Regions from separate parts of the Homo sapiens genome. Here all the other regions are linked to region 2. Evidence: fine-mapped expression QTL. A gene starts in region 2. Each other region holds a variant in brackets. All regions are shown on one strand. Distances are between the middles of the regions.

Region 1 (8,187 bases), 26 kb before region 2:
TACGAAAATCGATTCAAGATGGATTAAAGACTTAAATGTTAGACCTAAAACCATAAAAACCCTAGAAGAAAACCTAGGCATTACCATTCAGGACATAGGCATGGGCAAGGACTTCATGTCTAAAACACCAAAAACAATGGCAACAAAAGCCAAAATTGACAAATGGGATCTAATTAAACGAAAGAGCTTCTGCGCAGCAAAAGAAACTACCATTAGAGTGAACAGGCAACCTACAAAATGGGAGAAAATTTTCGCAACCTACTCATCTGACAAAGGGCTAATATCCAGAATCTACAATGAACTCAAACAAATTTACAAGAAAAAAACAACCCCATCAAAAAGTGGGCGAAGGACATCAACAGACACTACTCAAAAGAAGACATTTATGCAGCCAAAAAACACATGAAAAAATGCTCATCATCAGTGGCCATCAGAGAAATGCAAATCAAAACCACAATGAGATACCGTCTCACACCAGTTAGAATGGCAATCATTAAAAAGTCAGGAAACAACAGGTGCTGGAGAGGATGTGGAGAAATAGGAACACTTTTACACTGTTGGTGGGACTGTAAACTAGTTCAACCATTGTGGAAGTCAGTGTGGCGATTCCTCAGGGATCTAGAACTAGAAATACCATTTGACCCAGCCATCCCATTACTGGGTATATACCCAAAGGACTATAAATCATGCTGCTATAAAGACACATGCACATGTATGTTTATTGCAGCATTATTCACAATAGCAAAGACTTGGAACCAACCCAAATGTCCAACAATGATAGACTGGATTAAGAAAATGTGGCACATATACACCATGGAATACTATGCAGCCATAAAAAATGATGAGTTCATGTCCTTTGTAGGGACGTGGATGAAATTGGAAATCATCATTCTCAGTAAACTATCGCAAGAACAAAAAACCAAACACCGCATATTCTCACTCATAGATGGGAATTGAACAATGAGATCACATGGACACAGGAAGGGGAACATCACACTCTGGGGACTGTTGTGGGGTGGGGGCAGGGGGGAGGGATAGCATTGGGAGATATACCTAATGCTAGATGACAAGTTAGTGGGTGCAGCGCACCAGCATGGCACATGTATACATATGTAACTAACCTGCACAATGTGCACATGTACCCTAAAACTTAAAGTATAATAATAAAAGAAAAAAAAAATCCTATCAGCCAAAAAGAGCACTGGAGCAAATGGATTCACAGCTGAATTCTACCAGACATATAAAGAGGAACTGGTACTTATTTTACTGAGATTATCCCAAAAAACTGAGGAGGAGGGACTCCTAACTCATTCTATGAAGCCAGTTAGCACCCTGATACCAAAACCTGGCAAAGACACAATGAAAAAAACCTACAGGCCAACATCCCTAATGAACACAGTATTTCATTGAGGATTTTTGCATCTAACAAACTGAATCCAGCAGCACATCAAAAGTTAATCCACCATAAGCAAGTAGGCTTTACTCCTGGGCTGCAAGGTTAGTTTGACATATGCAAATCAATAAATGTGATTCACCACATAAACAGAACTAAAAACAAAAATCATACCATCCCAATAGACGTAGAAAGAGCCTTTGGGAAAATCCAACATCCCTTCATGTTAAAACTCTCAAGAAACTAGGCATAGAAGGAACACACCTGAAAAGAATAAGAGCCATTGATGGCAAACCCACAGCTTTAACATCATATTGAATGGGCGAAAGCTGGAAGCATTTACCATGAGAACTAGAACAACATAGGATGCCAACTTTCACCATTCCTATTAAACACAGTACTGGAAGTCTGTCAGTGCAATCAGGCCCAATAAAAAAATATAAAAAGCATACCAATAGGAAAAGAATAAGTCAGTCTCTCTTTCTGAATGATATGATTCTATACCTAGAAAACCCTAAAGACTCCATCAAAAGGCTCCTGGAATGGATAAACAACTTCAGCAAAGTTTCAGGATACAAAATCAATGTACAACAATCAGAAGCATTTCTATACACCAATAATGTTCAAGCTGAGAGCCAAATCAAGAATGCAATCCCATTTAGAATAGCCACACACACAAAATGAAATACCTAGGAATACATATAACCAATAAGTTGAAACATCTCTACAAAGAGTGCTACAAAACACTGCTGAAAGAAATCACAGATGAAACAAACAAATGGACAAACATTCCATGCTCAAAGGTTGGAAGAATCAGTATCATTACAACTGCCACACGTCCCAAAGCAGTCTGCAGATTCGTTGGTATTCCTATCAAACTATCAACATCACTTTTCACAGAAGTAGAAAAAACTATTCTAAAATTCGTATGGAACCCAAAGAGAGCCTGAATAGCCAAAGCAATCTTAAGCAAAAAGAACAAAGCTAGAGGCACCATGTTACTCAACTTCAAACTTTAAGACTACAGTAACCAAAAGAGCATGGTACTGGTACAAAAAAAGGCACACAGACCAAGTGAACATAATAGAGAACCCAGAAATAAAGCTGTGCACCTACAGCCATCTGATCTTCAACAATGTTGACAAAAGCAATGAGGAAAGATGCAATAAATGGTGCTAGGATACCTGGATAGCCATATGCAGAAGGATGGAACTGGACCCCCCCTATCTTTCACCATATAAAAAAATTAATTCAAGATGGATTAAAGACTTACTAAAATGTAAGACATCAAACTACCAGAATCTTGGAAGAAAACCTAGGAAACAGGATTTTAGACATCAGCATGGGAAAGATTTACGTCTAAGTCCTCAGAAGCAATTAAAGACCAATCTACAGAGTGGGAGAAAATATTCACCAACTATGCATCCAACAAAGGTCTAATATCTATAAGAAACTTAAACAGTTCAACGAGCAAAACACAACCCCATTAAAATGAGTGGGCAAAGGACATGCACAAACATTTCTCAAAAGAAAACATATGAGTGGCATACAAACATGAAAAAATGCTGAACATCACTAATTAGAGAAATGCGAACCAAAACCATAATGAGATACCATCTCACACCAGTCAAAATACCTATTATTAAAAAGTCCCAAAACAACAGATGCTGGTGAGGCTATGGAGAAAAGGGAATGCTTATATATTTTTGGTGGGAATGTAAATTAGTTCAGCCACTGTGTAAAGCAGTTTGGAGATTTCTCAAAGAACTTAAAACAGTACTACAACTTGACTGCAATTCCATCGCTGCGCAAGTACCCAAAGGAATGTAAGTCATTCTGCCATAAAGACACATGCACTCGTATGTTCACTGCAGCACTAGTCACAATAGCAAAGACACGGAATCAACCTAGATGCCAATCGACCATGAACTGGATAAAAAAAAGTGGTACATATACAACGTGGAGTACCACACAGCTATAAGAAGAACAAAGTCACATCCCTTGAAGAAACACGGATGCAGCTTAGGCCAAAATCCTGAGCAAATTAATGCAGCAACAGAAAACCAAATACCACACATTCTCACTTATAGGTGGGAGTTATAAGTGAATACCCATGGACATAAAGATGGCAACAATAGACACTGAGGACTAATAGAGGTGGGGAGGGTAAGAGGAGGGCAAGGGTTGGAAAATTAACTGTTGAGTACTGTGCTATCTGTTTTTGTTTTGTTTTGTTTTTTGAGACAGAGTCTCACTCCGTCACCCAGGCTGGAGGGCAGTGGCACGATCTTGGCTCACTGCAACCAACCTCTGCCTCCTGGGCTCAAGCGATTCTCATGCCTCAGCCTCCCGAGTAGCTGGGATTACAGATGTGTGCCACCACACTCGGCTAATTTTTGTATTTTTAGTAGAGAAGGGGTTTTGCCATGTTGGCCAGGCTGGTCTTGAACTCTTGGCCTGATGTGATCCCCTGCCTCAGCCTCCCAAAGCGCTGGGATTACAGGCATGAACCAACGCACCTGGCCTGTGCTATCTCGATGATGGGATCATTCATATTCCAAACCTAAGCATCATTCAATATACTCATGTAACAAATCTGTACATGCACCCCCGAATCTAAAATAAAAGTTGAAATTATTAAAGAAAAAAACCCAGAAACAAATTTTTTTTTTAGCAAACTAAGTAAAGAATACTGCCTCAACTTGATGAAGGGTAACTACCAGAAACCTACCTACACAGAACTTCATGCTTGATAAATATGGAAACAATACCATCACTTAGAATAAACAAAGGTTGTCCACTATACTGCTATTATTTAATATTATACAGGATATCCTGGCCAAAGCAATAAGCAAGAAAAGAACTAAGATAAAAATTGGAAAGGAGATGAAATTGTCATTATTTATGAATGGCTATAACCATCTACCTAGAAACCTCAAGAAAAATGAGCTAACTTGCAGAACCAGTAACAATATATTAAGGCAAGTTAGATATAAAAATCAATGTATAAAATTCAAATATACTTCCATTTATCATCAGTAACTCATTAGAATAATTCTAATAAAAAGATATTCACAATAGTAGAAATAATAACCTTAAATTACCTAGAATAAACTTAACAAAAGATATCCAAGACCTTAACATAGAAAACGCAGAATCTTGGCTAGGCATGGTTGCTCACACCTGTAATCCCAGCACTTTGGGAGGCCGAGGTGGGC[A/G]GATCACTGGAGGTCAGGAGTATGAGACCAGCCTGGCCAAAATGGCTAAATGCTGTCTCTACTAAAAATACAAAAATTAGCTGGTCATGGTGGTGTATGCCTGTAGTCCCAGCTACTCGGGAGGCTGAGGCCGGAGAATCGCTTGAACCCAGGAGGTGGAGGTTGCAGTGAGCCGACATTGCCCCACCACACTCCAGCCTGGGCGACAGAGTGATACTCCGATACTCTGTCTCAGAAAAAAAAATCATTTGCAGAAGATTCATAAATGGAGATTCATAAATGGACACAAAACTAAATGGAGACGTATACCATGTTTATGAAGGCAACGCCTCAAAACTGTACATGTCAATTCTCTCCAAATTTAACTGTAATATTAAAGCAAACCCAGTTGAAAAAATACCCTCAAGATTTTCATAGAACTATAAAACCTGATTCTAAAAGGGATATGGAAAATGTATATATAAACAGCCTGCAATTATGAAATGAAATTGAGTGGGGATATGTCTTAGCAAATATAAAAGACCTAATAAATCCTTAATAGCTGAAGTTGTGTTATCTTCACAGTAAAAGATAAACTTGAGGAGAAGGAGAGGGAATAGGGAGAATTTGAATTCAGTAGAAAGATAATTATTAATAAATTATGTTGAGACAATTGACTGTTCACTTAGAAAATACCAGGTTAGATCTTCACCTCATGCACAAAACTAAATACCAGATAAAGGTAAACAGGTAAAAAATAAAACTTTAAAGCTATTAAAAGAAAACATACAATATCTATTTCTTCAGAATGGGAAAGACCTTCATAAACAAATATAACCCCCCATGATTAATTTAGCAACAAAATTAAAACTACTATAATTAAAAAGACAATTGAAACTAAGTTAAAAGGCAACTGTTGGGGAGAGAGAAACTATCCATGATTTACATGATAGAAGATGTTACGTCTTTTACATCCTACAAATCCATGCAAAGATGATGAGCAACCCAATAGAGAAGTAGGGGAAAATATGACTATGAAATTCACATAAGAGGAAACTCAAGGTCTAACAGATACCTGGCAAGATGCTCTCGAGTAGTAATTACAAAGGGTAGGTTTTAAAAAATGAGATATTAAAAAACTCATGAGATTGGCAAATATGGAAATGTAAGGTAGTTCTGGAAATGGTATGGAGGCACTAGGAACTCTGGTGGGAGGGTAAATTTGTACAGCCACTTTGGAAGCGGATGAACAGTATGGCTGACTCAAGCCCCACCTATAATCCCATCTTCCTCCCTCATTTCCAGTAGAAGAAATTGGAGTCGGCTTTCAGGAAGGCTTTTTAAAAGAAATAGACCCAGCTGGCATTTCCCTTTGGCCTTGTTTATCTTCCCTTTTCTTCTTGCCTGTAATAATGCCTGAGGGTGCAGCCACCTTCTCAGAATCACGCGGTGAGAATCATTAGAATGAGGATCCAACAGAGCCGAAAGATGGGGCCAGTCCCTGATGTTACCACTGAGCTGCGTCATCCCACGTATGCCTACTTCCGGACCCCTTGTTACATGAAAACAACAAACTACTGTTCAAGGCACTGTTAATAATTTTTAAATGCGCAGCTGAATGCATGTCTGATACAGTAGTCCCTATTAAAATTCTAATTCCACTTCTGGATGTCTATCCTAGCAGCTCATTTCAACGTGGATGTAAGGAGATATATATATATAAGAGCATCCATGCCTGTGCTGTCTGATAAGGTGGCAAGCTAGAAACAAACGGAATAAACACCAATAAGGAAATGCCTTAATCTACCATGGTACATTTACACTATGGAATGCTGTTCAGCTGTTAAGAACTAGGTATATCTACCTTATCTGATGGCCATAAATAAGACATATTCTATGCCATCGTTGTTTGAGAAAGTAGCAATCATCTAGTGTTCTTACAAAGGCAAGCTCTAGGCCAGGCGCCACCCAGCTCACATACTGAGCCTCCTTCCTTGGCGCCAGTTGTGCCCTGAATGTGTGTCCAGGGTGGGGAATGGAAAGGCAGTCCAGGCGTTAGATCTACCAACTCAGATTTCACCTTTGCTGGTAGATGAGTCATGCCTATGCCTGGGAGACTGGCAGGGAAGTTGGGGAGGTACATGAAGCATAATCAGAGGTAGGTGGACAGCAGAAGTTAGGAAAGTTCTGATGTGGCACACAGGACTCTATCAACAGCTGGGGAACGACAGGTTTCTTGGGCAGCCTGGGGTAGGGGTGGGAGCTGGCAGTGCCACCTGTTCCTAACCTCTGTTCTTAATAGGGCTGGCCGAGGCAAAGCCATGTTATTTGTTTACTAGGTTTGAGGCAGTAAAATTACTGAAGTAATAACCACAACATTGTGAAGGACAATTGAAGGAGGTTGTTTGAGGCTGTTATCGACTCTATCACTAACACAATGACGGCTAAGTATAAGGAGAATTACCTATACTCAGGCATTTTAGATGGCTTTTTAGGTTTGGAGAAAATGAAAAGCAAAACATATATGATGCATTTCACAAATGCTTTTGGACTGATGTTGCTATACTTACTGGAAAATCAAGTTCCATTTGAATTCACCGAAATGTTTTCCTTTTTGCTTCTTGAATACTGTAGTGTTCTGTGATATAGTTAAATTTGCTGCCTTCGCAAGGTTGATACTGGAATTCTTTCTAGTGTATTATGCTGCATAATTTGTACCAATATTGACTAAATATTTATTCTTTTACATGTTCAATGGCTACTTGCAGAGGAATTTATTCAAATTTATTATAGTTTGCTACTGATATTAGCTTTATTTTGCATGTGCTGTAGAGGAATTCGTTCAGATATATTTTATTTTGTGTCTTTCCTAGTTACCAGTGTTCGGTGAACCACCGAACCAGTGTTTGCTTTCATACGACCGCGTGTCAGATCATCTACTCTTCCACCAGTAAATCTATTTTGCTGAGGGATACACAAAAGAAGCACTGAAAAACTATACATAAGATTTTCTTTAGGTAATTTTTTATTAATATTTCAATGTTGGTAGAATACTGCTACATACCCAGAATTCAGGATTTTCTACTATATTCTATTCTAGTACAAAATGAGATTTTTTCCCCTCAAAATCAGTTCACAATAACTTCTAATACATCTGTTATGAAAAATGCTTAATTCTTCATATAACTATGTGTCTTATATATAGGGTGATCGTACAATTTATTATACAAAATGGGACATACCTGAGAGTGAAAGGAAGCACTATTAAAAATTAAGGTGGGACTACAGGCATGAAACCAGAACTGTCTTAGGCCAACTAGGACATATGCTTATCATCTTTATATACCCGGTGACCTCCTATGTCAGCAAATAAAGAATATATACTAATATCAATAGATCACCATGCTGTACTATTGAGTGAGAAACCGTAGTAGCAGAAGGAACTGTGAGGTGGGAGACAGTAGTATGGGGAAAGACATGAACACCACAGCCCTGTTTTCTATACAAATATATACATATATGAAATTTGGGGACATTAGTAAAAGGGGTCTTTGGCCTTATCCGTAATATTTTAACATTATATAAGAAAAATACATC
Region 2 (8,187 bases):
ATATAACTAGGTAGCAGGACAGCTGTCTATAATTCAGGGTCATCACCTGAGGTGTTTCAAATCTTGTTCGGCTACCTAAACTTCTGCCTAGATACTTGTGGCACAAGTGCCTTGCAATTCCTCACAATGCTGATGACAAAGAAATGAAATAATTTTGTAACTGGTATTTCCCATCTGTTTCCCAAGCTACAGTATAAATGCCATGTGAGTACAGACTGGCAATATCTATAGGGACAAGGAATATCTAGCAGATTGTAGACCCAGTAAATATAAATGGGGTGAACATTTTGCAAGCTCTTCAAATGCCTCTTTCTGTCCTATCTGCAAGGAGTACTACACTTGTACTTTCTTCTTCACTAGGTCAGCAGTTTGCCACGTCTATAAATTGAAGTAATACCAAGTAATTGAATTAATATCTAGTAATTGAAGTAATATCAACTGCCACTTATTAAGCACTTACTCTCTGCCAGGCATTGTGCAACACTCTGTCTGTGAATTATTTCACAACCCTCTCAGATGAGTACTAATTTGTTAATTCCATTTTACAGGTGAGAAAACTGAAGCTCAGAGACACAAAGTGCCTAACTCCAAGTCCTACAGCTAGCAAATGGTAGAGCAGGGATCTGTACCAATAACCCAGGTGCATCTGACTCTACAGTTCATCTTAACGCAGCAGCACTCGAGGCTGTGCAGAGCCCCTACCTGAAGTGCTTGGTACTGACCTGAGTCCTGTGAGGGCTTTCACTGTTAACACATTCTGCAACCTCATTGTGGTTCCTGCAGTTCCCAGAGAAAATGAATTGGAGGTGGCCCATCTTCTCCCATGTGGCACAGGTAGCACTGATGAAGGGTTAAGACTCCCAGTTTGGAAATCTGGGCATTAGACTTGGCTCTTCCACCAATTCCCTGTGTTACCCTAGGCAATTCACTGAACCTCTGTTTCCTCCGCCCTAAAATAAAAACAGCAACAACCATGGCTACACTTATTATTTATTATGGGTTAGGCAGTGATATGGTTTGGCCGTGTCTCCACCCAAGCCTCTTGTTGAATTGTAGCTCCCGTAAATCCCACGTGTCCTGGAGGGACCCGGTAGGAGGTAATTGAATCATGGGGGCGGGTCTTTCCTGTGCTATTCTCATGATAGTAAGTCCCACAACATCTGATGATTTTATAAAAGAAAATTCCCCTACACAAACTCTCTTGCCAGCCACCATGTAAGACGTGACTTTGCTCTTCCTTTGCCTTCTGCCATGATTATGAGGCCTCCCCAGCCACGTGGAACTGTGAGTCCATTAAACTACTTTCCATTATAAATTACCCAGTCTTGGGAATGTCTTTATTAGCAGTATGAGAATGGACTAATACAGTAAATTGGCACTGGGTAGTGGGGTGCTACTGTAAAGATATCTGAAAATGTGGAAGTGACTTTGGAACTGGTTTACAGGCAAAGCCTGCAACAGTTTGGAGGGCTCAGAAGAAGACAGGAAGATGTGGGAAAGTTTGGAACTTCCTAGAGACTTGTTGAATGGCTTTCACCAAAATGCTGACAGTGATATAGACAATAAAGTCCAGGCTGAGGTGGTCTCAGAGATGAGGAACTTGTTGGGAACTGGAGCAAAAGTGACTCGTTATGTTTTAGCAAAGAGACTGATGGCATTTTGTCCTTGCCCTAGAGATCTGTGTAAGTCAGAGCTTCAGAGAGATGATTTAGGGTATCTGGGGTAAGAAATTTCTAAGCTGCAAAGCATTCAAGAGGAAGCAGAGTGTAGGTTTGAAAAATTTGCAGCCTAATGATACAAAAGAAAAGAAAAACCCATTTTCTGGGGAGAAATTCAAGCTGGCTGCAGAAATTTGCATAAGTAACAAGGAGCCAAATGCTAATCATCAAGACAATGGGGAAAATGTCTCCAGGGCATGTCAGAGACCTTCTTGGCAGCCCCTCCTACCAAAGGCCCAGAAGTCTAGGAGGCAAAAATGGTTTCCTGGGCTGGGTCCAGGGTCCCCCTGCTCTATGCAGCCTAGGGACTTGGTGCTCTGCGTCCCAGCTGCTCCAGCTGTGGCTAAAACGGGCCAAGGTACAGCTCAAACTGGGGCTTCAGAGGGTGCAAGCCCCAAGCCTTGGAAACTTCCATGCGGTGTTAAGCCTGTGGGTACACAGAAGTCAAGAACTGAGGTTTGGAAACCTCTCCCTAGGTTTCAGAGGATGTATGGAAACTCCTGGATGTCCAGGCAGAAGTTGGCTGCAGGGGTGGGGCCCTCATGGAGAACCACTGCTAGAGCAGCATGGAAGGGAAATGTGGGGTTGGAACCACCCCACAGCGTCCCCACTGGGACACTGCCTAGTGGAGCTGTGAGAAGAGAGCTACCATCCTCCAGACCCCAGAATGGTAGATCCACCAACAGCTTGCACCGTACACCTAGAAAAGCAGCAGACACTAAACGCCAGCCCTGGAAGCAGCCAAAAGTGGGGCTGTACCCTGCAAAACCACAAGGGTGGAGCTGCCCAAGACTATGGGAAACCACCTCTTGCATCAGTATGACCTGGATATGGGACACGGAGTCAAAGGAGGTCATTTTGGAGTTTCAAGATGTGACTGCCCCGCTGGATTTTAGACTTGCATGGGGCCTGTAGCCCCTTCGTTGTGGCCAATTTCTCCTTTTTGGAATGAGTATACTTACCCAATACCTGTACCCCCATTGTATCTAGGAAGTAACTAACTTGCTTTTGATTTTACAGGCTTATAGGTGGAAGGGGCTTGCCTTGCCTCAGATGAGACTTTGGAGTGTGGACTTTTGAGTTAATGCTAAAATGAGTTAAGACTTTGTGGGACTGTTGGGAAGGCATGATTGGTTTTGAAATGTGAGGGCATGAGATTTGGGAGGGGCCAGGGGCGGAATGATATGGTTTGGCTGTGTCTCCACCCAAATCTCACCTTGAATTGTAGATCCCATAATTACCACGTGTCCTGGGAGGGACCCAGTGGGAGGTAACTGAATCACAGGGGTGGGTTTTTCCCATGCCGTTCTCTTGATAGTGAATAAGTCTCAAAAGATCTGATGGTTTTATAAAGGGGAGTTCCCCTACACAAGCTCTCTTGCCTGCCACCATATAAGACGTAAGATGTGACTTTGCTCCTCTTTTGCCTTCTGGCATGATTATGAGGCTTCCCCAGCCATGTGGAACTGTGAGTCCATCAAACCTCTTAACTTTATAAATTACCCAGTCTTGGGTATGTTTTTATTAGCAGCATGAGAATGGATTAATACAGGTAGTTTAAAGGTTTAGCATTTAAGCCTCAGGACAATCTTCCGAAGTTGTTACTAGTATTATCATCAGCTTTCAGAAATGAGGAAAATAGATCAGAGGTTAGGAACCTTGCCCACAAATTATGCAGGTCATAAGGGGTTGGGCAGGGTTCAGGACTTGAAGCCGGGTCTGTATGACTCTTAACCACTACATGTAATGCCGCACAATAAGGCTGGGACAATACAGATTCGCTTAGGTCATTATCTTATCACTGTGAAAGGAAAATAAATCTTGGGGTCCCAAGATCACTAAGCTAAAGGGAAAAGTCAAGCTGAGAACTGCTTAGGGCAAACCTGCCTCCCATTCTATTCATGTATCTCTGCTCACTAAAATAAAGGCATATCTGATTGCTTCCTTTGGAGAGGCTAATCAAACTCAAAATAATGCAACCATTTGTCTCTTACCTACCTATGACCTGGAAGCCCCCTCCCCGTTTCGAGTTGTCCCGCCTTTCCAGACCGAAAAACATGTTCATCTTACATCTGTTCTTGTCTCATGTCTCCCTAAAATGTAGAAAACGAAACTGGGCTCTGACCACATTAAGAATACATCGTCAGGACCGCCTGAGGCTGTGTCATGGGTACATGTCTTCAACCTTGGCAAAATAAACTTTCTAAATGAACTGAGACCCGTCTCAGATTTTCAGGGCTCACTCCACCTCCACAATTTCTGTCACATCTGATTCATCTGGTATTATGACTAGCCTATAAGGTTTTGTTTAAACCTACTTACCTTTTCCCAACAAATACATGCAGTTTAAATGGGAACCTGTCACTGCCACTTTTAAGTGGCAAACCAGAACCAAGTGATAAAGAGGAGGTAATCGTTCTCCCAAAGTGTGCAGAAAATCAAAGACAGGAATCAAGTATAGCCAGCCACCTGTGGAAAGTTCGGAGCTTGGGGCCCCGATGTCCTTAAAAACAAAAAATGCGGAGGGCCAGTGTTTGAGGCCTTGGCGACATTCTAGAAAGCCAAGCTGCGCCCGGTCCCCTGGGATCAGGAAGACATCTGAAAGGGGATACTCCTTCCCGCCACCCTGCTCAGTCATTCACCACCGTCCCCCACCCCCGGGACCGCCACCTGTCGCGTTCCAGGCCGAGGCGGTCCAGGGTCCCCGCGGAAGGGCGGCGGCCCCCCAACCCCAGCCCAGGCCCACTCACAGCTGCAGGAACAAGGGCGCGGCAGACGGCTACAGCAGGCAGAGAGGCCCAGGCCTCCTAGCTACCCATCACCACAGCTGGGGCGCCGAAGCCGTCGGACCTGCCTCCTGGAGCCACTTCCGGGCCTCTCTAGGAAGCCTGGAGGTCTCGGAGTCTCTATGACGCGCAGGTGTCTCCTTCACCTTCACCGGCGTTGAGGTAGCAGGAGGTTCGCTTCATGAATTCCCCCACGTTCTCTGGCTGTGCGTTCCGCCGTGGCGGGAACCCTTTTAGGGTCACGTCTTCCCCCACGTCCCCTGTCTGTGCGTTCCGCCGTGGTGGGAACCCTGTTAGGGCCACGTCAACTGCTCTTCCCACCTCCAGTGTCTGCTTTTAGACTTTCACCTCCATCTTTGTTTATCCCCAAGGCCAAGACCAGTGCCTGATAAATAGGCACTCAGGTCAGCATTGCTTGGGTGGATGGATGATGGAAAAGGCTCTATAGGGAGGCAGAATATTCACTCTCCATGTATCTCTTTAAGTTTCTATTATCTCTGAGTTTCCATATCTATGTGTGCCCATAGGTTTTCCTGTGTCCCTAATTTTCCTTATTTCTCTTTGTTCTGGTCGCCAAGCAGGCAGTGATGCCAAGACTAATCTTTGTTGCTGAAGGAACCAAGGAATGCAGAAAGGAAAGTTGGCATCCTCACTCAGAGGTCTCCTTTTGAGGCCCATCTTTTGTCTCCTCATCATGAGTGTGGTTCTGTGGATGGTTGCAGACTGTACACGTGTATGGACATGCATCCTGGAATGGACCCCTGGCTGGGGAGGATTTCATTTTAGTGTCTTGGAGGATGGAAGTTTTGACTTCATGTGGTGCTCTTGCCGATAGATCTGGTACCAAAGGCAGACTCAGAGAGGTTCATATCAATTGCCTGATTTACTGCTCAGTTTTCACTAAGCACACACAGTCACAAGGACAAAGCTCAAGTCCTAGGATATAAAAATTAATGAAGCCCAGGTGAAGAAATCAAGAAGTGCCAGTCCCTGGCACTGGCCTCTCTCATAGGATGCTCTGGCTTTCCTGCCTGTCTTGTCCTCACCTATTAGGCAGGCATAAGTCACAGGAGACTTCTTGTGCTAAGCAGTCTTAAAGAACAGCTTTGCAGTGGCTGCTTAGGATACATAAAAATTAGAAGAGAAGAGGAAGGGTATTCAGGGGGCTGAGAGACCAGCTATATGCTCTTGAGGCCAGCAGCTAAGGAAGAAAAGACCCACTGAGGATGCAGTAAAGAAGACAGACTTCCTTTGGGGAATTACAGGATCCTCTGAGGGATACCCAGATTTAGAGTGTGTGGATAAACATGAGAAATGGTGAATTTAAATGTTAGTATTCTTGTGCCACCGAGGACTCTTTTAAAATATAATCAGGCGTGTTTTAAAGGAAAATTACAAACTCTATAATTGCTTCCTTAGCTTCCATCATAATTTAGTGAGTTGATTTTATAAAGGTCTGACCAAGAGATCTAAGACAGAAATGACTGGAGAAAGAAATTAACTTCAATGTGAGTTTGTATATCAGTGTTTGTTTAGTATTGTCTTCCCCCAATAATATGTCCAGGCAGTGGATGCATCTCAGAAAGATCAGTTTGCTGTCACAATTACTCACAGGTGTGCAGTATTTTATTTCTCACTCCGATCACAGTCCAATTCAGTCTGCAGGGAAGGGGAAGAGTGCTGTGCTCCACATAATCACTCAGGGACCCAGGCTTCCCCCATTTGTTATGCCATCATGTTCAACTCTTGGCTGCCAAGGTCACTACAGAAGAGGAAGTAAGAGCTTGGCTTTCCCCAACACTTTCACTTAAAGTCTCCTGCATCCCCTTGAAATTCTTCAATCTCTTCACAGCACTTAGCTCATCTGAAATTATCTTGCATGTTGCTATAATGAAAGCTCCGTGAGTGCAGAGACCTGCTTGATTGATTGGTGTATCTCCACTACCTACTATAGTGTCTGGCATAGAGACAGAATTTTTTTTTTTTTTTTTTTTTTTTTTTTACTGGTGAATGAATCAGCAAATGAATATATGTCACATTTCTGGTTGTCCCTGTTCAAAATCCCAGGCTTGCAAACGACACCTTCTTTTGGCCCAGCTTGGATCAGAAATCACCTCTACCATTGTCAGCTGTGGCAAAAGGACACAAGAACTGCTATAAACTGTGGTCATTTCTAAAGAACGGAAATTATTGTGAGCTTGGTAGGCACATGAGAACTTTGCTATCCAAAAGTGTGGATCAGTAACATCAACATCACCTGAGAGCTTATTAGAAATGTTGGGTCTTGGATCCCATTCTAGGCTTAATAAATACAAATCTGTATTCAGCAAAATCCCTAGGTAATTCCTATGTATAGTAAAGGCTGATAAGCACTGCCCTAAAAGTGCTATGACTTAGTAGTAGTAGCACTACAACTCTCTGAGGTGGGTAAGAGAAACCTTGTAATAGTTCCACACTGCATCTGGAAATCAGGTGAGTTTAAGTGACTTACCCAAGGTCACAGAACTAGTAAATGACAGACCTGTGATTAAAAGCCAAGGCTTCTGGCCGGGTGCGGTGGCTCACGCCTGTAATCCCAGCACTTTGGGAGGCTGAGGCGGGCGGATCACGAGGTCGGGAGATCAAGACCATCCTGGCTAACACAGTGAAACCCTGTCTCTACTAAACATACAAAAAATTAGCTGGGTGAGGTGGTGGGCACCTGTAGTCCCAGCTACTTGGGAGGCTGAGGCAGGAGAATGGCGTGAACCCAGGAGATGGAGCTTGCAGTGAGCCGAGATCACGCCACTGCACTCCAGCCTGGGCGACAGAGTGAGACTCTGTCTCAAAAAAAAAAAAAAAAAAAGCCAAGGCTTCTGACTCCCATATCCTCCACATTCCATCTATTTCACCATGCAGCTGTCTTTCCTAGATAAACCTATTTTCTTTCACTAATAAAAAAAATATAAAGGGGAATAGACAGAAAAAAATTGAGCTATATTTAAACAGTGGTTAATGGCTTCAATAATTGATTTTAGAAAAGAAAACAAGCATTTATCACATGCAGTACATTTCATAAAATGGTTTTCCTCATTACATATTAAAGAACTCTCCAAGTAACATAATGTTTATATTTCATTTATTCAGCAATTAAGCAACTTAATATTCTTTTAGAAGCATTTATAGCACTTATTAAGAATTATCAAGCATACTATTTGGGTCAATGGCTTTTCTTTTTTCCTATTAAAAACTTTTGAAATAATTCATTATTGTTACCCTTGCCTCTCTCAGTACTGATTAAACTAAGTGTTTAAATAGTGCTGACTAAACCTACATGTTATTGTGAGTGTCCTGGCAAGGGCTCTGTGTTCAGTGCTGAAGCATTAGGGGCTCTCCTAGAAGGACACAAAGGACCCTTTGAGACAGTAAAGCTTATATTTGCCATTTTCTTGTCTCACTGTTTTCAGGAATTGAGAAGTAAGGATACCCACTATGTTCATCAGGTTTCTTTGGGTTGCAAATCATAGAAATCCATCCCAATATAGATAAATCAAAAGTAGGGATGCTTGGCTCCTGTAACTGGAAGCTTAAAAGGTGGATCTAGTTGTCGAGCCTCAGACATCATAGAGTCCTGTCTCCTTATCTCTTGGCTCTGGATAGAGAAAGGTTAGTATAGAACGTGTCAGACATGGTTTTCCCCAAAG
Region 3 (8,187 bases), 41 kb before region 2:
AAAAACACAAGTCACCAGCCTGATCAAAGGTACATTAGGCTTCTGCAAACACAGAGTAAATTTTGGATCCAGAAAATACAAATTTTCTTCAAACACAGGACATTTACAAATATTGACTGTACAACAAGCCACAGAGCGGGAAACAATTTTAATTGCTCTAATACAAGATTAAACTTGGCGCCACATGAAAATCACAAACAAAAAGATGCTCCCCAAAAGTCCTATGATCACAAAGTTTAAAAGCTATTTCTAAAATATTTTTAGGGAATATGTTAGGGAAGGGACAAAAGTATTTCAGGAAAGGGACAGAACTGCCCAGAAAAAAAATACTAGAATTTTAAATGCATTTATTGTAAAATGAGAAAAAGTGACAATAAATGATCTACGCTTTAACTTAGAAGCTAGGGAAAACACTCTAAAGAGGGTAAAAAACAAGAAAATCCAAAAAAACAAAACTAAAATTGATAAAATGGTTCTTTTAAAAGTCAAGGGGAAAAAAAGCAGCACAAATCAACACTACCAGGAGTAAAAATAATTTTATAGTAAGACTTTTGGAAGCCTAGACAAAATAGGTAATATTATATTAAAATAAAAACGACCAAATGTCTAAGAATCACTAAAAATATGACTATTCCAATTATCATCCAAGAAATAGAAAAAACAAATAAGACTAATCCAATTATCATCCAAGAAATAGAAAAAACAAAGACATGCACCTCCCACCCCATGGCATCAATTTCAGATGATTTCATGGGCAACTTCTACCAAACATTCCAGAGAAAGTTTTTTTTTTTTTTTTTTTTTTTTTTTTTTTGTTACTGTGGCCAAAAGAAAAACCCAAAACAACATGACATGAGATTTACCCTGTTTTTTAAAGAGTACAGTACAGTGTTAACTACAGGCACAAAGTGGTACAGGTCTCTAGAACTTTTTCACCTTGCATGAGTGAAGCATTATATACACTGAACAGCAATTTCCCATTTCCCCCAGCTCCTGGTAACCACCATTCTACTTTATGCTTAGATGAGTTTCAATGCTTCAGATGCTTTACATAAGTAGAACTACGCAGTATTTGTCTTTCTATGATTGGCGTATTTTACTTAGTATAATGTCCTTCAAGATGCAAGTTGTAGCATCTGACAGGATTTCCTTCTGTTTTCTGACTGAATAATATTCCATCGTATGCCTATACCCCATGTTCTTTGTCCATTCATCTGTCCATGTACACTTTAAGTTGTTTCTACCTCTTGACTATCGTGAATGATGCTACGATGAACTGGAGAGTGCAAATCTCTCCTTCAGTTCCTGATTTTGATTATTTTAGCTAAATATGCAGAAGTGGGATTGCTAGAACGTATAGTACCTCTGTTTTAATTTTTGAGGAACCTCCACACTGCTTTGCATAATGCCTGCATCATTTTACACTTCTACCACCAACAGTGCAGAAGGTTTCCTATTTCTCCACATCTTCGTCAACACTTGTTATATACATATTTTTCTAATAATGTCCATCCTAAAAGGGTGTGAGGTGATATTTCACTGTGGCTTTTACATTTTCTTTTTTTTTTAAATTAAATTAAATTTTATTTTATTGAGACAGAGTCTCACTCTGTCGCTCAGGCTGAAGTGCAGGGCTGAGATCTTGGCTCACTGCAACCTCTGCCTCCTAGGTTCAAGAGATTCTCCTGACTCAGCCTCCCAAGCAGCTGGGATTACAGGTGCACACCACCATACCCGGCTCATTTTTTTGTATTTTTAGTAGACATGGAGTTTCACCATGTCTGTCAGGCTGGTCTCAAACTACTGACCTCAAGTGATCTGCCTGCCTTGGCTTCCCAAAGTGCTGGGATTACAGGCGTAAGCCACCACGCCTGGGCAATTTGCATTTTCTTGAAGATTAGTGATGTTGAACATCTTTTCATATACCTGTTGACCATTTGTATGTCTTCTTTGGAAAAATGTCTATTTAAGTCATTTGCCCATTTAAAAAATTGTGGGTTTTTGCTATTGAGTTATAGGAATTCCTTGTTTTTGATATTAACTCCTTATCAGATGTACAGTTTTCAAATATTTTCTCTCAATCCAGAGGTTGCCTTTTTACTCTCCTGAATATTTCCTTTGCTGTGTGCAGAAGCTTTTTAGTTTGATACAGTTCTACTTACCTTTGTTTTGTTGCCCAAGCTTTTGAGGTCATATCCAAGAAATCACTGCTAAGACCCATGTCATGAAGCTTTTCTTCTGTTTTCTTCTAGCAGTTTTATGGCTTTAAGTCTTATATTTAAGTCTTTAATCAATTCTAAATTGATTTTCACATATAAGTTAAGAGACCAATTTCATTCTTTTGCATGCGGATTTTCAGTTTTCCCAACACCATTTTTTGAAGAGACTATTCTTTCCCCACTGTGTATTCTTGGAAGCTTTGTCAAAGATCGGTTGATCTTAGGTGCATAGGGTTATTTCTGGGCTCTCTATTCTGTTCCATTGATCTATATGTCTGTCTTTTGCCAGTACCATAATATTTTATTACTGTAGTTTTGAAGTGTGTTTTGAAATTAGGAAGTATGAGACCTCAACCTTTGTTCTCTTTCAAGATTGTTTTGGCTATTTGGGATCATTTGTGGTTCTATATGAATTTTAGGATTGTGTTTTCTATTTCTGTAAAAAATGCCATTAGGATTTTGGTAGGAATGACATTGAATCTGTAGATCACTTTGGGTAATATGGACATTTTAACAATATTAAGTTTTCCAGTTCATGAACATAGGATGTCTTTCCATTATTTGTGTTTTAAATTTCTTTCAGCAATATTTTATAGTTTTCAGTGTACAAGTCTTTCATTTCCTTGGTTAAGTTTATTGCTAAGTGTTTTCTTTTTGACGCTGTTATAAATGCGATTGCTGTAATTTCCTTTCCAGATTGCTTGTAGTTGGTGTACAGAAACATAACTAATTTTAGTATGCTGACTTTGAATCCTGTAACTTTACTGAATTTATTAGTTCTAACAGTTTTTTTCCCCTTTGGTGGAATCTATAGGATTTTCTACACCTAAAATCATGTTATCTGTGAACAAAGATAATTTTTCTTCCTCCTTTCCAGTTTGCGTGCCTTTTATTTCTTTTTCTTGTCTACTTGCTCTGGCTAGAACCTTCACTAGTATGCTGAATAGAAGTGGTGAGAGTGAGCATCCTCACCTCTTTCCTGATCTTAGACGAAAAGTTTGTTTTTTACCTTTGAATATGTTAACTGTCGTGTTTTCATATATGGGCCTTTATTATGTTGAGGTAATTTCCTTGTTATTCCTAGTGATATGATTTGGATAGTCATCCCTTCCAGATCTCATATTGAAATGTGATTCCCAGTGTTGGAGGTAGGGACTAGTGGGAGATGTTTGGGTCATGGGGGCAGATCCCTCATGAATGGCTTGGTGCCCTCCCTACAGTAATGAGTGAGTTCTCACTCTTAGTTCATTTAAGAGCTGGTTGTTGAGAAGAGCCTGGCATTTCTCTTGTTACCTCCCTTGCCATATGACACACTGGCTGCCCTTCTCTTCCACCATGACTAAAAGCTTCATGAGGCCTTACCAGAAGCATATGCTGGCACCATGCTTCACAGTCCACAGAACTGAAAGCCAAAATAAATTATCCAATCTCAAGTATTTCTTTATAGCAACACAAAATGGACTAATACACCTAGTTTCCTAAGTTTTTTTAATCACAAAAGGGTGTTGAATTTTGCCAAACGCAATTTGTTTCTATTGATATGATCATGTAATTTTTATCCTCTGTTCTGTTCCTGTGGTGTATCACATTTTTGATTTGCATATTTGTAATCATTCTTATGTCCTAGGGATACTCTCCAGTCTCTTATAAGTGACTAAATCCCACTTAGTCATCATGGTGTATGTCCTTTTAATGTGCTATTGAATGTGGTTTGCTTGTATTTTGTTAAGAATTTTGCATCTATATCTGGGATATTGGTCTGCATTATTTTTTTCTTGTAATGTCTGTTTTTGGCTTTGGCACTGGGGTAATGCTGGCCTCATAAAATGACTTCGGAAGTATTCGTTCCTCTTCTACTTTTTAAAAGTTCAGAAGCATTCGTCTTAATTGTTCTTTAAATGTTTAATAGAATTCATCAGCAAAATCTTCTGGTCCTGGGCCTTTTTTGAGATGTTTTTGATTACTGATTGAATCTCCTTACTAGCTAAAAGTCTGTTCAGATGTTC[T/C]ATTTCTTTATGATTCAGTCTTAATTTTCTATTCTCTACTTTGATAACTTCTACCTTAATCTTTATTATTTCATTTCTTCTGCCATCTTTGGGCTTAGTCTGTTTGTTTCTCATTCCTTGAGGTATAGAAGTTAGGTTATTTGAGCTCTTCTTTTGGGAGGTAGGAATTTATCACCACAAATTTTCCTCTTCCTACTGCTTTTTTCTCCATGAGTTATGTTTTTGTTTTGTCTAAAGATATTTTATAATTTACCTTTTTATATCTTCTTTGACCCATTGGTTGTTCCAGAGTAGGTGTTATTTAATTTCCATATATTTATGAGTTTTCTGATTTTCCTTCTCCTACTGATTTTTAGTTTCATTTCACTGTAGTTGGAAATAAATTTGAGAATTCAATCTTCTTAAGTTTGTTAAGACTTGCTTTGTGATCTGTCCTGGAGAATATTTCTGTGTGCACTTGAGAAAATGTGTATTCTGCTACTGTTGGGTGGAATGTTCTGTATATGACTATTAGGTGCATTTGATTTATAGTATTTTTCAAGCCCTCTGTTTCCTTATTGATCCTGTGTCTAGATGTTCTATTCATTACTGAAATCTCCTACTATTATTGCGATGCTGTTTTTCCCTTCAGTTCTGCCGATGTTTGTTTCATATATTTAAGTGCTCTGATGTTTGGTACATACATATTTACAATTATTATATCTTCTTGGTGAACTGACCCATTAATCATTATCTGTCCTTCTTTGTCTCTTGTAGCAGCTTTTGACTTAAAGTCTATTTTGTTTAAGTATGGTCACCCCTCTTTTAGTAGCTTAGCGTATCTTTCTCCATCCTATCACTTTAAGTATATGTGTGTCATTAAACTTAAAGTCAGTCTCTTATATACAGCATCTAGTTGAATCTTGTTATCCTTCAGCTACTTTGTGTCTTTTGACTGGGCAGTTTAATACATTTACATTTAATTATTGATAGGAAAGGACTAACTATTGCCATTTTGTTAATAATTTTCTGTCTGTCTTGCAGCTCTTTTGTCCCTTTTCTTCTTTCACTGTCTTCCTTTGTTGATTTTTTGTAATTTTTGTAGCTAACATAGGGCTTACATGAAACATTTTATAGTTGTAACAATCTGTTTTAAGCTGATAACAACTGTAATCACATTGAAAAACTCTACAGTTTTACTCTTTCCTCCAAACTTTGTCAATTATGTCATAAATTTTATCTTTTTATATTGTGTATCCCTTACATATTTTCATAGTTTTTAAATACTTTTGGCTTTTAACATCTGTACCAGAATTAAAAGTGATGTATACACTAACAATATAGTATTCTGTGTTTAGCTATATACTTACCTTTACCAGCAAACTTTATACTTTCATATGCTTTTGTATGGCTGCTTAGAGTCTGTTTAAACTTCAAGAACTTTAGTATTTGTTGTTATTCAGGCCTAGCGGTGATGAACTTCTTCAAATTTTATCTGAAAAAGTCTTTATTTCTCCTTTGCTTTTAAAGGACAGTTTGCCAGATACAGTATTCTTGAACAACCTTTTCTCCCCCTCCTTTCAGCACTCCCAATATACTGTCCCATTCTTTTCTGGCCTGCAAGGTTTCTGCTGAGAAATTCACTGATTCTTATGGGAGTTCCCTTGTATGTAATTAGTCCCTTTTGTTGCTCTCAAAATTCTGACTTTTGACAACTGATGTCTCAATATGGACTTCTTTGAGTTTATTCCCTTTGGGTCCATTTTCTTTCAGAGATTTGACAAGTTTTTGGACATTATTTATTTAAAGAAGCTTTCTGTCTCTTTATCTCTTCTACTTTTGGAACTAACATAATGAGTATTTTGGTCTGCTTATGGTGTCCTATAAGTCTGTGAGGCTTTTTTCTCTTCCTCTTCCTTCCTTCTGTTCTTCCTTCCTTCTCCTTCCCTCATCTTCCTCTTCCTCTCCTTCCCCCTCCTCTTACCTCTCCCTTCTTCCCCCTCCCCCCACTTCTCTTCTTCTTCCTGTTTTTGCTCCTCTGGCTGGATAATTTCAATGATCTGTGTCTGGGCTTTCTGTTCCCAAAAGAGAAGGAACACACGAACACACACACACACACACACACACACACACACACACACACACACGTGAAAGCTTTCTGAGTCAGGGTCTTGCTCATGTCACCCTGGCTGGGGTGCAATGTTAGGGTCACAACTCACTGTAACTTTGAACGCCTAGGCTCAGATGATCCTCCCACCTCAGCCACCTAAATACCTGGGACTAAAGGCATGCAGCCACATGCCTGGATAATTTATTTTTTATTTTCTGTAGAGATGGGGTCTTGCTATGTTGCCCAGGCTGTTTTCAAACTTGGCCTCAAGCTATCTCCTGCCTTGGCCTCCCAAAGTGCTGGGATTACAGGCATGAACCACTATTCCTGACTACAGAATATATTTTTATTGAATAAAAATTATAAGGTGACAGACCAAAAAAAAGAGACCTCCTAAGCTCATTTTAGGAGGGTAGAGGACAATCAAGGAAGAGAGGGAAAATCAAGAAAAGTGAAAGGAACAGAGAGAAAGGGAGGGAGGATGATGCCAATCTCACTGTTAAATAGAGTAGAAATCCTGAAAAATATTTGCAAACCAATGTTCACTTGTTCATAACGTAGAGTTAATCTCAGGAATCCAGTAATGGTTTAATATTGGAAAACCTATCAATGCAGTTCTCTACATTAATAGATTATGCTTTTCCATAAGGAAATTGATAATATGAAACACATATGCCACATAAAAGCTTTTAGTGAATTAGTGTTTTTTTTTTTTCCAAGGTGGTGGATTAGAGGTTTTTAACATGCCTCAGCCACTTGGAAATAGCAAAGTAGTGCCTAAACTCTCTGAGCTTTAATTGGAGAAGGAAAATTGGAATCCACTAGAATTGTAAAGAAAACCTCAGATCCTGGGTAGAAGAACACAGGCAAACAGCCCCTGTGATGATGTCTAGTTCATAAAAAGATTGTAGTGCCCCAGGGCCTTCTCTGGTTGACACCCAGGCAGATCTCCACTGACCTGGATCAGCAGCCGGAGTTGCCCCACTCTTCCTCTGCAGAAATTGTGGTGAAACAGGGCCCTCTCCGCTCCATGCCCAGGCAGATGTCCAGGCATTCAGAGCACCTCCTTGCCTGAATGAGTAGTCTGAGCCAGCCCACCCTTCCTGTGTAGAGACGATGGTAAAGCGAGGACCTCTCTGTCCCATGCCCAGGCATATCTCTAGGCAGCTGAAGCACCCACTCTCCTGAATTAGGAATTTAGGCTGACCCCTGATCTGTACAGATAACTTGGGGCTGAGGAGGTTTTCCAGCTCCATGCCTAGGCCCACCTCTGGGTATCTGGTGGCTGCCCACTGGATTCTCCCTCAGCACTGGTGCTTGTGCCTGCCACTGGGGGACCTGTAGGTAGGCCTACCTGGTCTGGTCCTGCCCATCATGCCCCCCTCTTCCTGGGGCTAAGCAGGAAGCTCAGAGGACTGTGCATTCCATGCATCAGCCCATTTCCTGAGGCAACGGCGAGCTTCTAGTAGTAAACAAAGGGCAAGTATATACCCAGCATGTTGGCTGCAGCTGCCTCTTACCCTTAAGTACCCTCTACTGGTTTGTAAGTCAAACCACAAAGCCTAATACAAAACCTGCCAAAAGTAGTGCATAGGGTTATAGAAGCAAAGCCAAAAGACCCTACCCACATTCTCTACAGTCACAACTCCTGGGGGCAGTAGCGGGGGTGGTGTGGGGAAGGGAAAGGGAAAGAAGAAAAAACCGGTAATATTATAGAGAAAGAAAAAGAAAAGAAATCCTACCCACATGAAAATAATTACAAGAATTAGAAGAGTCAGCATCTCCAGATGAGAAGGAACTAGCACAAGAATTCTGGCACCATGAAAAATCTGAATTTAGTGGTATCACACTAGCTCTCCAGCAATGGTCCCTA

The links. PIP is the estimated chance that this variant, and not a neighbour inherited with it, causes the effect.
Region 1: its variant is fine-mapped to the expression of SDR42E1 in aorta (GTEx, PIP above 0.99). The same link has a PIP of 0.9 or more in esophagus muscle, sigmoid colon and whole blood.
Region 3: its variant is fine-mapped to the expression of SDR42E1 in blood mononuclear cells (TOPMed, PIP 0.94).

What each region holds. Positions count from the first base shown.
Region 1 is chr16:81,981,258-81,989,444 of GRCh38, forward strand. It overlaps SDR42E1 (short chain dehydrogenase/reductase family 42E, member 1), which reads right to left. Exons shown (of 3, transcript NM_145168.3): 3 at 7,598-8,187. Among named protein-coding and RNA genes, the nearest start is that of SDR42E1, 26 kb to the right of the region's middle. The variant A/G (reference allele first, on the strand shown) is at 4,612.
Region 2 is chr16:82,006,919-82,015,105 of GRCh38, forward strand. It overlaps SDR42E1 (short chain dehydrogenase/reductase family 42E, member 1), which reads right to left and starts at 4,552. Exons shown (of 3, transcript NM_145168.3): 1 at 4,469-4,552. LOC112268169 (a long non-coding RNA gene) reads left to right here. Exons shown (of 2, transcript XR_002957879.2): 2 at 549-976. RefSeq lists a silencer at 4,327-4,476 and enhancers at 4,717-4,806, 4,817-4,896.
Region 3 is chr16:81,966,186-81,974,372 of GRCh38, forward strand. No RefSeq gene overlaps it. Among named protein-coding and RNA genes, the nearest start is that of SDR42E1, 41 kb to the right of the region's middle. The variant T/C (reference allele first, on the strand shown) is at 4,226.